Linked DNA regions of Homo sapiens. The protein of the gene in region 3 purifies or fractionates together with the protein of the main gene of each other region. This does not show direct contact. Each region holds a gene or a part of one and is shown on either strand. Other genes may lie near its edges.

What was found.
Region 1: the proteins of SLC24A4 (region 3) and TPM4 purify together in Homo sapiens (affinity purification with mass spectrometry; one large-scale study listed by BioGRID and IntAct). This does not show direct contact.
Region 2: the proteins of SLC24A4 (region 3) and TMOD3 purify together in Homo sapiens (affinity purification with mass spectrometry; one large-scale study listed by BioGRID and IntAct). This does not show direct contact.
Region 4: the proteins of SLC24A4 (region 3) and SPON1 fractionate together in Homo sapiens (co-fractionation; one large-scale study listed by BioGRID). This does not show direct contact.

What each region holds. Positions count from the first base shown.
Region 1 is NC_000019.10:16,086,495-16,089,994, forward strand, and holds part of TPM4 (tropomyosin alpha-4 chain), read left to right. Parts: coding exon 1-46; intron 47-1,532; coding exon 1,533-1,603; intron 1,604-2,550; coding exon 2,551-2,626; intron 2,627-3,500. UniProt on the Homo sapiens protein: Binds to actin filaments in muscle and non-muscle cells. Plays a central role, in association with the troponin complex, in the calcium dependent regulation of vertebrate striated muscle contraction.
Region 2 is NC_000015.10:51,895,653-51,899,152, forward strand, and holds part of TMOD3 (tropomodulin-3), read left to right. Parts: intron 1-766; coding exon 767-874; intron 875-3,500. UniProt on the Homo sapiens protein: Blocks the elongation and depolymerization of the actin filaments at the pointed end. The Tmod/TM complex contributes to the formation of the short actin protofilament, which in turn defines the geometry of the membrane skeleton.
Region 3 is NC_000014.9:92,321,857-92,325,964, reverse strand, and holds the start of SLC24A4 (sodium/potassium/calcium exchanger 4 isoform 1 precursor), read right to left. Parts: upstream 2,801-4,108; 5' UTR 2,135-2,800; coding exon 2,005-2,134; intron 1,906-2,004; coding exon of another isoform or gene 1,765-1,905; intron 98-1,764; coding exon 1-97. UniProt on the Homo sapiens protein: Calcium, potassium:sodium antiporter that transports 1 Ca(2+) and 1 K(+) in exchange for 4 Na(+).
Region 4 is NC_000011.10:14,133,723-14,137,222, forward strand, and holds part of SPON1 (spondin-1 precursor), read left to right. Parts: intron 1-1,697; coding exon 1,698-1,846; intron 1,847-3,500. UniProt on the Homo sapiens protein: Cell adhesion protein that promotes the attachment of spinal cord and sensory neuron cells and the outgrowth of neurites in vitro. May contribute to the growth and guidance of axons in both the spinal cord and the PNS.

The sequences.
Region 1 (3,500 bases), on a different chromosome or scaffold from region 3:
AGAGGCCAAGCACATTGCGGAAGAGGCTGACCGCAAATACGAGGAGGTGAGTGGGGCTGGCAGATGGCGCAGCAGCAGGAAGTGGGAGGAAATGCATCTGCTGAGATAGGGAGGACACCGGGGCCAACGAAAGGAAGCTCTCGGTTAGGTCAGCTGTCCTCCTGCGTGAACATATGTTTGTCCAGAGACAACCACTTGGCTAGGAAACTATCTCCCACGATGCCAGAAAGTGCTGCGGACGCTTGTCTAACGTAATGGGAAAACCGAATGATCAGCTCACTTGTGTCGTTAGCTGGGAGTTTTGGCACAGTTGGGCAAAAATGGAGGATTGTGGTCCCAAGCCATGGAGTTTCAGACCATGCAAGCTCAGGCCCTCCTTTGCCTCCCTCGATGGCTCGGCTCTTCCCTCCCGCCTCTTGTCTGCCTCGCTCCTCAGGCTTGAGGAAGAGAATCAGGATTTCCTCCAGGCCCCAGGATGGCTCTTTCAGTTGAAGCGCCAGCAAAAGGCCAGGCGCGGTGGCTCGTACCTGTAACCCCAGCACTTCGACCGAGGCGGGAGGATCACCTGAGGCCAGGAGTTTGAGACCAGCCTGGGCAACATAGTGAGACCCCATTTCTAAAAATAATAATAATAATAATTAGCTGGGTGTGGTGGCATGCACCTGTAGTCCCAGCTACTTGGGAGGCTGAGGCAGGAGGATCGCTTGAACCTGGGAAGTCAAGGCTGCAGTGAGCTCTGACCACGCCACTGCACTCCAGCCTTGGAGACAGAGCAAGACCCTCTGTCAAAAACATAAAAGGGCTGGGCATGGTGGCTCACGCCGGTAATCCCAGCACTTTGGGAGGCCAAGGCAGGCAGATCACCTGAGGTCAGGAGTTCATGACCAGCCTGGCCAACGTGGTGAAACCCTGTCTCTACAAAAAATACAAAAATTAGCCGGGCATGGTCGTGCATGCCTGTAAGCCCAGCTATTTGGAAGGCTGAGACAGGAGATTCACTTGAACCCAGGAGGCAGAGGTTGCAGTGAGTCAAGGTTGAGCCACTGCATTTCAGCCTGGGTGATGGAGCGAGACTCTGTCTCAAAAGAATAAAAAAATAAAAAAGAGGCCAGGTGTGGTGGCTCATGCCTATAATCCCAGCACTCTGGGAGGCCGAGGTAGGTGGATCAGGAGGTCAGGAATTCGAGACCAGCCTGGCCACTACGGTGAAACCCCATCTCGACTGAAAATACAAAAATTAGCTGGGCGTGGTGGCACGCGCCTGTAGTCCCAGCTACTTGGAAGGCTGAGGCAGGAGAATCGCTTGAACCCAGGAGGTGGAGGTTGCAGTGAGCCGAGACTGTGCCACTGCACTCCAGCCTGGGCAACAGAGGGAGACTCCGTCCCCCTGCAAAAAAAAGAAACACCAGAAAAACCCATGTTGCAGCTGGTCTAGGGGTCTGGGTGGGGCATCATTGGGGGCTGTCTGCAGTGGATGGGAGAGGACACGGCTGGTGGGGATCGGGCTCAGCTGGGCCTTTCTGTCTCTGCAGGTAGCTCGTAAGCTGGTCATCCTGGAGGGTGAGCTGGAGAGGGCAGAGGAGCGTGCGGAGGTGTCTGAACTGTGAGTGGCAGAACAGGACTGAGCGAGGCTGGCTCGATTCCTGGGGCGGAGTGGGAAGGAGCTGGCTGTGTTGGGAATTGGCTCTGACCGGGGTCTCTGCTCAAGTGGACGGGCGTCAGGGGCTCATGGCTCATCTTTTCTCTTGGCTTCTGTGACAAAGAGGTGGTGACTTGTTCTTACTGCCATGGGAAGCACTGCCCACGTGTTGACCCTTTCTGCAAAGATATGAGGAAATAGGAGTGAGACAGGAGGCAGCAGGGAAGCCCAGAAGTCCCATTTTCCCAGAGAGGATATCTCAGGGGGCTGTGCCATCTTAACAGAACACTGACCTGCTCCAGAAGGCAGGCTCCCCCGGTCAGTATGTAAATGCTTTTGCTCCTGTCAGTGTTTGGCCGTGACACATTCCTGGCGGGAAGGTGAGAAGCTTAACCAGAATCCCACAAGCAAGCACCGAAAAACAAAACACCTGTCCTCTTGGCCCCGGGTGAGGAATTCAGCCCCACAGAGCATCCGGGAGTGCTGAGAGAGATCTGGTTTCACAAATCCACTCCGGGCTTCCTTCCCGGAGTGTCCCCTGCAAACTCCCATTGCTCTCTGCCCGCCTTCTGCCCTCAGTCCCATTCTTACACCTTCCGGAGTCGGCCTCATCAATCATAGATTTCACAAGTCCTTGCAGCCTTACCCTTGGCAAAAGACCAGGAGTGTTTTCCAAGCCCTCCAAATACTCTTCGGGCGCACCTCGCCTCTGCCTGGTATGATAAGCCTTTGATAAGCCCATAGTATCACACTGCAGAAAAATCCATTAACATTTTCTCCCCACATTCCTTCTGCCCCCCACCGGGGGAGCTGTGTAGGTTTCTCCTTTGGAAAATTTATTGTTGGGGCGATTGCTATTATTGCCGGCTGTAAGGGAAGATAAGACACAAAAATCCTTTGTCTTTGTGCAGAAAATGTGGTGACCTGGAAGAAGAACTCAAGAATGTTACTAACAATCTGAAATCTCTGGAGGCTGCATCTGAAAAGGTAGGTGGTTGGCTTGAGCTGGAGGGTGGCTTGCTGGACTTTGTTCTTTTCTTCTCCCGAGGGATGCAGGAGCCTGTCAGGTTATGGGGAATCTGCCCTTTATTTAACAGTAGCGTTGGTGCCTGGCAGCCAGGGTTTTTCCCCTACAGAAAGAGCTGGATTTCTCCTGCACACTCTTGAGTCCTCTTCCATGGGGTCTGAGCACCATCTTTGATCTCCATCTCAGGAGGATAGAGATAGAACATGAGGCTCTTCTTAGCGAGATCTGAGCATAGTTGTATAAATAAATACAGAGCCTGCCTCTCACCTGATTCCCCTGGTTCCTCCAGAAATACCATCTCAAAGGTATAGCAATGATCAGAGGTGGAATTGGGCTTTTTAGTTTGAAACAGCACCCAAAGCAGTTGCTACGTGGCAGCTACGTCGGGAACAAAGGACACACTTCCACGGCCGAACCCCACTGAATTTCCCAGCCTCTTCCTCATTCTTGCTCCTGCTTTTGCAGTTTCACAGACATTCTTTGTTCTCCCATCACCTCCACCCCCCACTTTTTTTTTTTTTTTTTTGAGACAGAGCTTCGCTCTGTTGCCCAGGCTGGAATTCAGTGGCATGATCATAGTTCATTGCAGCCTTGAACTCCCAGGCTCAAGCGATCCTCCCACCTCAGCCACCACCTGCTATTCACTCAACTGGGTGTGGCTTTCCTTTTGCTTGATAAACCCCTATTCAGCCTTTTTTTTTCTTTTCTTTTTTTTTGAGACAGGGTCTCACTCTGTCACCCAGGCTGGAGTGAAGTGGCGTGATCTCAGCTTACTGCAGCCTTCGACTCCCAAGTTCAAGCAATTCTCCCACCTCAGCCTCCCGATTACACGCT
Region 2 (3,500 bases), on a different chromosome or scaffold from region 3:
TCTCTCCTTCAAGTAGTGTAGGGTTAATCTCTCTTAGTGCTTTGTAGCTTAAACTAAGTGACTGAGAACAGTCTGTCTGCCTCAGGAATCGTACTCATCAGAGATGGACTCCTTCATTTCTTTCCTTGTAGAAAAGTAAATCCACTTTTATTTTCATATAAAAAGAATAATGAAGGCTGGGTGCAGTGACTCATGCCTGTAATCCCAGCACTTTGGGAGGCCGAGGAGGGTGGATCACCTGAGGTCAGGAGTTCGGGACCAGCCTGACCAACATGATGAAACCCCATCTCTCCTAAAAATACAAAATTAGCTGGACCTGGTGGTGCATGCCTGTAATCTCAGCTACTTGGGAGGCTGAGGCAGGAGGGTTGCTTAAACCTGGGAGATAGAGGTTGCAGTGAGCTGAGATTGCGCCGTTGCACTCCAACCTGGGCAACAAGAGCAAAACTCTGTCTCAAAATACATAAATAAATAAAAGGAATAATGAAAGGTGAGAATAATGAGAATTTTTTTTAACCTAAATGCTAGAGAAATGGTGATATGTGCTCTGCTCTGAGTCAGTAGTTTATGCAAATGCTCCATCGTAGATAAGTCAGATAATTATGGAGGAAGCTGCATTATTTGTATTCATTTGTAGACTAATTCTTAGGTGTTTGTATAATTTCTGAATACATTTTAAAGCAAAAAAAACCATATATTTGATTAATGGAAACTAAATATAATGAAAATTGAAATGTAATGATGTTTTATGTTATTGTCTTTCAAGAATATCCCAATTCCAACCCTAAAAGATTTTGCAAAGGCTTTGGAAACCAACACACATGTGAAATGTTTCAGTCTTGCAGCCACCCGGAGCAATGACCCTGTTGCTACTGTAAGTAAGCGACTTGAGAATATCAAAATTATGACATGCCCAGGGTGTGTTACAGTGGTGATTTTTATGAACAAGATTTACCCCTTTTTTATAGTTAATGTTTTAGCTCACTATTAGGCAGTATATTACTTACCAGCTTTTTGTGTTTATTTTTTCCTGTATTTCCTTCCTATGAATTTTTTCCCCCTCCCAGCTTCCCCCTCCTTCCTATGAATTTTTTAAAACATAAATGGAATCATGTAGTATATGCTGTTCTGCAACTTGATTTTTCACTCTGCAGTTTATCTTTAAAGTTTTGTTGTATCAATACATAGGGATCTACCACATTATTTTAACATCTTCAGAGGATTCCATTTATGGATCCTTAGTGGTGGATTTTTGTTAAATGCTTTTGCTGTGTCTCTTGAGATGTTCATATGGTTTTTGTCCTTTATTCTGTCAATGTGGTGTATTGATTGACTTTTATATGTTGAACCAGCCTTTCATTCCTGAGATAAATCCCACTTGATCATGGTATAAACCTTTTGTTTCATTGGCTTTGAGAATATCACTCACTCCCTTGGGGGCTCCCCTTACCTCAGTGGACATTCCTTCTCAAAGCCCTGTACTGGTTTCTCCATATCTCTTCAACTTCTAAATATTGGAATGGCCCAGAACGTGGTCCTTCTTTTCTCAGTCTACACTGACTTTCTGGGTAATCTCAGAAATATATATATTATCTTCATATACTTGCTGATGACTCCCAGTGTTATTATCTACAGTTTGTATCTCTCTCCTGAACTCCGTATTCATGTCCAGCTACCTCCTCAGCAGCTTTACTTGGATGTCTAATGGACATCTTACATGTAAGTCCTCAAACTCCTGACTTCCATCCTGTGCCTGCTTTTCTCTGCTGTTTTCTATCTTACTAAATGCAATTTCAATCTTTCATTGCTCAGGCAAACAAAAAAAAAAAATTTTTTTTTTTTTTTTTTTTGAGACAGCGTCTCACTCTGTTGCCCCGGCTAGAGTGCAGTGGCGCAATCTCGGCTCACTGCAACCTCCGCCTCCCGGGTTCAAGCGATTCTCCTGCCTCAGCCTCCTGAGTAGCTGGGATTACAGGCATGCGCCACCACGCCTGGCTAATTTTTGTATTTATAGTAGAGATGTGGTTTCACCATATTGGCCAGGCTGGTCTCGAGCTCCTGACCTTGTGATCCGCCCACCTCAACCTCCCAAAGTGCTAGGATTACAGGCGTGAGCCACCACGCCCAGCAAAAAAAAAAAAAAAAACAAAAAACTAATGGAATCATTCTCGACATCCCTTTCTTGCAACTTAAACCTACCTTTGGCCCTATCTTCAAAATATTTCAGAATCCAACCACTTCTCACCATTTTCACAACTACCACCTTGACCCAAGCCACCATCTTTTCCCACCTGGATTATTGCAACAGCCTCCTAATTGGGTTACCTTCATCTATTTTACCTACCCCAAAGTCAGTTCTTTACATAGCACCAAGAGTGATTCTTTTAAAACTTAAGTTAAATGACCTCATTCCTATTCGGATAACCCTCTAGCAGCTTCCCATCTCATTAAGAGTAAAAATAAAAATCTTTCAGTGGCCTTATAAGGCTTCACATGAGTGGACTTCATCTCATTTACTTGCCCTTTCTTTCATTCTACTCTAGCCATACAGCCTTCTTCAGCATGCCATGTGGACTCCCAAATCAGGGCCTGTACATTTGTTCCTTCTGCCTTGAACTTTCTTCCTAAAATAATCCACTTAGCTTTGTCTTATCACTTTGACTCTTTGCTCAAATGTCACCTTCTAGTTGAGGCTTTTCCTGACCGTGCTATATAAAATACCAACCCCATTCCCACCCCCAGTATTCCCCATCTACCCTATTGTGCCTTTTTTCTTTTTACCCTCTAACATTGCACTTTGCTTACTTTTATTATCTGTGTCCCTCCCCAGCTAGAATGAACATTCTGCCAGGCAGGGACCAATGTGTTTTATCTCTGAATCTCTAGGACAGTGCTAATCAAATAATAGACCATCAGTAATATTCGAATACATGTATGGATAAGGGATTTGTTCCAGGTCACATAGCTAGTTGTTGCTAATAGAAAGGACAAGTATGTAGATACCAGCCACAGTTTTTTTAGTATCTCTACGCCCTATTGCCTTTCCTTTAACTTTAAGCTTGGTCTTACCCATATTTTCTGTAGTTTAACCTTGCTTTTGATCCCTCTAAGGGGCTGTTTTATATAAACTCATGATCATTGTTCTTTTTTCTCTCTCTTTCCTTCCCCTCCTTCCTTCCCTTCTTCTCTCTTCCTACCTCTGTCTCTTTTTCTTTCCTTCCCAGTCTCCCTCCTCTTTCTTTTTTCACTTGTAGGCTTCTGTTAATTAATCAATATGGTACTTATTAAGCACTGAGTCAAATGTCTAACACTGTACTGTATCCTATGAGAAATGAAATAGAAGCAGATTGAAGACATACCATTACTTGAGGAATTTAATATTTTATTAGCCCCTTCTTCTCAATGGCCTTTGTGCTCTTCTGGTTCTGGTTATCTGTGTTCTTTTCTGGCCTTCTGCCTTGACCATTTCTTTTGGCCCCTGCCTTGGAAATTAGTACATA
Region 3 (4,108 bases):
TTCTTGGCTGTCTGTGTCCCATTCACTGGGGCCATCAACTTTCTATTTCTCCACGTGTCTGGCAGGACACGTTTGCTAGCAGAAGCTGTTTTGTGCCCTGGATTGGAAAATAAGTCACAGATACCATTAGGTCAGTGTGATGGCTGCGTTTCCAAAATGACCTTACATTTGTGTGTCTATGTCAGCAACAGCCCTGTTTGCCTATTCAGAGCCATCTTTAGGGACTGATAGGATGATTGGAAGTATAATATCACCTGCTTACATACAATGGCCTGTTTCCTGGATCTAGTTCACTGTTTCCAGTCCCAGATGGGTCAGCATGTGACCTGACCTTGGCCAAGACTGAGGTGGTCTCAGCACCTCATAGGTGCAACAAACGGTTTAGATAGGTGACCTTTTAAGTGTTCTTCCAGTAAAGGACACTCTCAGAGGGCCCCTGCCCTGGAGGAACTTCACGAATGAATAGCAAGTCAGCAAGCAGGTGGGCAAGGCTGATGCGGTCTGGCCCAGTGCTCCTCACACTTGAATGTGCACACAGATCACCTGGGGATCTTGTTAGAATTCAGATTCTGACTCAGCAGGTCTGGGGTGGGACCTGGGATTCTGCACTAACAAGCTCCCAGGTGGTGCTGATTCTGCTGGTCCAGGGGCCATACTGGGCAAGAGAGAATTTGCGGAGGCCCGCAACCAAGCACACTTAAACTCCTAAAGGTAATTCCTGATCCAGCAAATAAAAATGATTCTCACTTTAAGACCTTCAGAGTATTCATTTACCTCTCCTGATGCGCACTGCTTCAGCTGGGTAATAATACCTCTTCTATAATGCTGATGTCTAAGAGCCTCTAGGTATGTTGTTATTTCTGGTGTGTAATTGAGGGGGGAAAAAAATCCAAACACTGACTTGCCCAATTGCAAAGCACCAGGTACTAAGATATTCAAAATAATCTTCCTGGGTCTCACTGCAAAGAGCCACTTTTTAACCCTGCATCCTCAAATCACAAAGTTTAGGTTTCGAAAGGCAGTTATTTTGAAAACTTTAATCAAGTTCCACTGGATTTTTACCTATCAGTGTACACCTCTCTAAATGGTCTCTGGATGTTGACGGCCTTTCTAACTGCTCAAGAAGGTACTACCCGCTTTACCTTCCATGTCTTGGTGTTTAAATCACCAGCATTTCTTTTGTCTTTTTACATTTAAAAAAATAATGAAATTAAAAGGTTCACAGCATCCAACTCAAAATGAGACGATTAGGGAAGTGAATGTCTCCTGAGTTAGGGAAGTGAATGCCTCCTGAAGGTTACACATGGGGTCACATCCCCCTAAACACACTTCTTTGGTTAGTTCCTTCTCTCTTCCCGCTCCACCTGAAATTTGCATAGCCTAAGCTACTCCCAAATCCCTCTTCTTGGAGGAGGGGGCATGGGTCGAGGCTCCACACACCCGCCTTCTCCCTCCGTGGGAGTTAAGGGGAGTTGAGAGACGCGATGCTGAAACATGGCAGCTACCCCCCGCGGCAGACTGCCCCAACGCCTTTAGGGTTTGGGAAGAACAAACACCTCAGGGCACCCAGGGGACCCCTTTGAACCAGGGCAGGGGCGAGACGCAGTGGCGGTTCCTGCGGCTCTGCAGAATAGGAAAGCGGGCCACTCAGTTTCGCCCACCCCAGACCAAGAGAATCCTGCCTGCACCCCGCAGTTGCGCTGCCCATTCCGGGCGCACTCCCGGGACGGAAGCGGTTCTTGCTTTCGTCTTAGTAACACACACCTGCAGCCGCGTCCTGAGCCCCCCCAGGGGCCGCTCGTAGCTCAGGGGAACCGGCGCCACAGCCCAGAGCGTCCATCAGCTCTTCTGGGCGCGCTCTACCTGCCCGGCGGGGAGGGGACTGGATGAACCCTTGGGACCAACCTGATGAGGAAGGAGGGGAAAACATCTCGCAGCCGCCCCGAGACTCCCCAGCCAAAGCCCCCAACTCCCCAGGAAGAGGGGACCCGTACCAGCACCCACCCAAGCTGCCGAAGAGGCCGGACGCACAGCACACCAGGGCCAGCACCGCGCACACGAAGCCGACTTGCTGCGGCAGCATCTCTCGCCTCCTGCGAACTTTGAGCGGCCGGAGGGTCCCGCGGAGCGCCATCCCGGAGCGCCTGGGTGCCGTCTCTGGGAGAGGATGGGGAGCTTCAGCGGCCAGAGTGCAATCAGTGGCCGAGCGGCGCTGGGGCTGGAGCAGGCGGTGCGCGACTCAGAGGCGAGGAGCTCCGGGCCAAAGCCTCATGGCCCGAGGGCGAGGTCGGCGGGGGAGCCCCTTGGGAAGGTGGGGACGCGCGACGCGGCCGGAGCTCAGAGTCCCGCGCGCCGCGTGCGCGCTGCGCGCACCATGGCTCCGTGGCGAGGAGGCGACGCCGGCACGGTGGCGCTGGCGGCCCGGGCTCGCAGGGCTGGCGCAGTCCCGGCGCTAGAGCCGCTACCTGCCCGCTCCGCTTCGGCCGGCTCGCCCGGCCACAGCCCTGGCAGCAGCGCCGTAGGGAGCACTCAGTGCGCCCCCGCGCCCCGCGCCGCCGCGCCCACTCGCAGCATCCTCCTCCTCCAAGTTTGGCGGCGGCCGCCCCGGCTGCCAGCCGGCGATGTTCCCCTGCTTCCCGACGAGCCGAGCCCGGGCGGCCGAGTGCGCGCCGCGGGAAGGCTGGCTGGACGCGCGGTACCTGAGACCCTCGCGGCGAGCAGGCTCGACGTCGGCCCTCCCAGGGGCGAGCTCTCCCCGGGAACTTTCTCTCTGGCTTCTCGGCTGCGGGCGCCAGCGTCTGAGAGGCCGTGGCGCCTCCCGCCCGCTGCTCTCGCCTCCCTACTCCTCCCCTCCTGCCCGCCTCTCACCCCCCGCCCTTCCCAGCACGTGTACTCGTCCCGTAGGGCGCACTCCCCCGTGCACTCTTCTCTTCAGTAGTTGGACCTCTACTGACCAATATAATCCCCTTCCTTCTCCCTTTTTCTCTCCTTTCTTCCATATGGAGCTGCAACGAGCCCTTCCTTTACCCTCTGAGGCTGCTGCAGAGAGAAACAGGTTATGGCACCGCTGGGGACTCTTAGAAAAAGGGTTTCTGCAGTGTAGTCGCTCCTGTCCGGGCTCTCCGACCCCCGAGCCGACCCGAGGCCCCGCCACACACCCCCTCCCCACCCCGCCACCCACCACGGGGGGAAGATGCAGGAGAAAATTAATTGGTCGTGCAGAGCTAACAAACAGGCTTGCACCAAGCCAACACGAGCTTGGACCCGCTGGGACCAGCTCCTTCAGGGCTCTCGGGGCTGTTGGGGATCTGCGAGGCCGCGACACCGACCTGCAAAAAAGCTGGAGACGGGGCAGAGAGGGGAACCAGAGAGATCTGCGGGCCCCACAACCGACGGTTGAGCTTTCCATGTTCCTAAGCCTACCGCTTCCCAGGGCTTGCTGGTTTGGTTTTGTATCTCTCCTTTCTGGTCGGCTCTCTGGTGTAAACCGCTTTAAAAATGGGGCAGGAGGGAAAATTTCAGAACAGCAGCTGAGGGGTGATACAGGTGCAGGCAGGTGGAGGGGACCCCAGCCCAGGGGGTCTGTGACTACCCCTAGGACCGACTTCCTTCCCGGCCAATTCATCGCCACCTGTTCAGTGCCGCTAGGGGTTAAAATCCTTCTTGGAACAGGCCAACTCTTTAATTAAATAAATACATACCCACCGTGTGCAGGCCCTGTGCCAACCGGAGAACAAAACAATAACAAATGTATGAGACCCAGTCTCTGCTTTCAAGGAACTCTAAATCAAAAGGGAGCAAGGCCCTTAGATAAATGCCCCATTAAGGAGGGTCCTGAAAGTCACTGTTGTGCAGAATGTGCGTTGTTCCCTCACAGCTCACTACACTACCGTGTGGTCCTCAGCAGCATGAGAATTGCCTAAGAGCTTATGCGACACACAGACTCTTAAGATTCCACCCCAGACCTACTGAGTCAGAATGTACATTTTTAACGAGATCCCTTGGAAATTTGTGTGCACCTTCACGTGTGAGAAGTGCTCCCTTTTCAAGCCCGCTCCAATGCCTCTAGCCAGTCACCACCCACACGGTTCCCTCTGGACTGAGTAAG
Region 4 (3,500 bases), on a different chromosome or scaffold from region 3:
AGGACTCTTCACCCAGGAAATGAGTTAGAGAAACGGCTGGCAGCATCTCTATCTGTCTACTCTAGGGATATGAGAGATGAAGGATAAACATGGGGTCTGCATTTTCCCGATGTGTAGGAAATAATGAACAAGCAATTGGGCAAACCCGCATGGTGATGTCCTCTGCCTGGGGTGGGCCGTGGCTGCCCTCAGCAGGCCAGGAAGGTGCGGCCTGGCTTTACACCTATGTTCTTGATGTGGCCCTGGAGCAGAGGGCCATGGGGAAGCGATGTGAGCTGTAAACAGAACCAGGCCATGTTCAGAACCACTTTCTTTCTTTCTTTTTTTTTTTTTTCTTTTTTCAAGAGTGTTTATTAAAATAGGCAGTAATGGGGTGAAGAGTTCTGCCCACTCTGGGCCACAGGATGGGAAACTGAAAATGTTAGTTGGGTTCACCCAGTTCAAGTTTTCCTCTTTGATATGCCTGAAAATGTTATTTAACTTGAGACTTTGTTTAACCAACCAAAGAATGGCTGAGAATTGAGCCAACTGTGTGATGAACTAATTATATGTAACTTAGTCAATAATAAATGTATATGCATCTGTATTCATCACATGTAAAAAACAAATCCAGTAAGGTGCTGATACTATCAGTTCCTTCTTCCTCCAGGACTTAAATAAAATCCTCAAGTCAAGTTCTGTCTTGCTCCAGCCCAGATCTTACTCTGTTTTCCCATGCTGTTGTGTTGTGCATTAATTCCCTCCCACATCCCACTGCAGCCACCATCCCATGTGATCTTCACCAAACCACTGTGGACTGGTCACTTCCACATATCCAAACTGTCCATCACATCCTTTAAATATAGCTAACCTGCCTGCCCCTTGTACTGAAATGTACATAGAAGTCAGCTGAAATCAACCATGTTTACTTCTAAGGCTGGTCCCCACACATTTCTTTTATCTTTTGCTCCTTGCTTACCTCTCCAGCTCTCCACTCCAACTGTGCTCTCTCCAATGCATTCTTCACACTGCTGTCTGGATGATTTATCTAAAATTCAAATGCAATTATATCACTCCTCTGCCAGAACCCTTCAGTGGTTCTCAGATCCTTTCAAATGACATCCAAACTCCTGAAGCATTTAGAGCAAGGCCATTCATGAGCCAGCTTCTTCCTACCTCCCTGGCATCATCTCCTAACTTTCCCCTTGACAGTTTGTGACACAGCAATGCTGAATTAGTTATGACTCTCCAAACACACAATGTTATTTAATGTTTCTGAGTCTGGTCTATGGCTATACCACCCTGAATGCACCCAATCTTGTCTGATCTCAGAAGCTAAGCAGGGTCAAGCCTGGTTAGCACTTGGATGGGAGTCTGCCAGAACAGTCCTTTCTACTCTATTTTGCCTTACAAATATGATCAGCCTTTAACGTTCTCTCAACTATCCCCTTCTCTGAGACCTTCCTAGACAGAACGCATCTCTGGGCTGCCTCTGCGTCTTGTTCAACATCTGCTGTTGACCTGTCTGTACATTCCCAAGACCTATTTGCTTATAGGAACTCAGTCTTATCACTGAATGGCACAGGGCCTAAGACAGAATAGGTGCTTAGTCAGTGCTCTTTGAATCGATGTCCAATTACGCATCCTCCCCATCATTTAAGGGACTCGTGTTTCAGCCACAGCCATGCTGATAACTGCCTCCTGATTGGCTTTCCCAGGTCGGGCCAACCACTGGTCTGCGATCATCGGAGGATCCCACTCCAAGAATTATGTACTGTGGGAATATGGAGGATATGCCAGCGAAGGCGTCAAACAAGTTGCAGAATTGGGCTCACCCGTGAAAATGGAGGAAGAAATTCGACAACAGGTAAGACAAAAAAATCACAGAATGACCAAATAACAGAAATGCAGTCAAAGCACTCCTTAGATATCTTTCCCAGGGGCTTGAAATTTGCAGTACAATGTGGTGGAAGAAAATCTATTTGCTGAGTTTGGGGGTTTTATGTTAAGTAGAGGACAGACAGAGGCACAAATATCCATTTTGTTGTCTCAGATTGTCCCTGACTGCATTCATGTTTTCTTCAGCCTGTGCTAAATGCTGCTGCTGTGGCCATATTGTTGGGATGCCTTGTCTCTAGTCTCCTGAGAGTCAAAGCCATGAATTAAGGTTTTCTTACTGTGATCTTTGAGAGGGTCAGAGGAGTAATAGTCAAGCTGTCCAGCCAAATCCCCAAAATAAATGTTTGAGTATTGGCACGTGCTTTTTGCAACTATGTCTTGAGGTACTTGATAAATTAGTCGTTCGTTCATCATAATCATTATGGACTGAGGCATCTTCTGTGTCCTATGCTGTGTGGGCCCAGGAGCAGTCCCACTCTCTAGGCCTTCACTGATACCTCTGTGAGATAAGGGAGAAAAAGTCCATAATTCTTATCAATTCATTTGGCTGACAGTGCCATCGTCCTTCATCAAAAGCCTAATCAGGTTGACACCAGAGAGAGGCTAATGAGAGAACCTTGGAAGAAGAGCCACGTGGCTCAGTGGTGGTTTGCTGCAAGACATGGCAGTGCAGCTTTAGCCATCACTACCCACAAAAGCCTGTCCAGCCTGAGAGAGCACATGGCAGCATGTCCCACTGCCCACCAAGTGCTCTGGAGGAAGTAAGGAAAGAGCAAAGCATGCTTGGGATGTGATCATTTTACAACACAGGTCACTGAGAGGCTGTTGCCCTCCCTGTGCTCCTGTCCCACATCTCCTGAAACAATGCAGGAGGCTAAGAAAACACCAGGGACCCCATCTCACAGTCTGCATGTGCCCAGAGGCCTGAGCAGCACAGCAGGGCAAGCACAGCTGAGGCCCGCAGTGTTCCCCACCATCTGGACTCCAAGCTGCCCACAGACCCTAAATTGGAGGCAACAAAGGTCACTCTGACTCCTGCTATAAATCCCCTGAGGAATCAGTTTGGACTAGAGTCGAAAAATGCCCCAGAATGAGCTTATGTTTCTTATTAATTTGATTTGAAGTCTTTCCTCCTTTCTTGGAAAAAAAGATGTTTGACCAGATGTTTTAAGAGTGCATGCTATTCATCCAAGATGAGCTATCTAACTATGCTCTGTTTCTCTGACTCTGGCTGCCATGCCTCATAATTGGCATCACTCCTTCAGACTATGGCAAAGTCATGCAGGGCTCTATATTGGTGCTAGTCTGTCTGGCCTATCATGGGGGAACCATTGTTTGGGATCCTGGAGGTTCACATTCCCAGTTCTCAAGTATGGAATTATGCCTCCCTGATTTGTCAAGCTCCATGGTGTGGAATCTTGAAAACCTTTTGTTACAAATAGTAGTTGAAATACTAAAGTTTGCCAGTTAATTACATCAGGGTCAAGGGCATCTTCATAATAATGTCAGTCTCACTTGTTGGCTTTCTTGAGAGGTTTCTGGAAAAGAAAGAATCCTGCAGGAATCATACATAACTGGAACTATATTGTGCTGGTGAACATTATCTGACATGTCATAGCAAT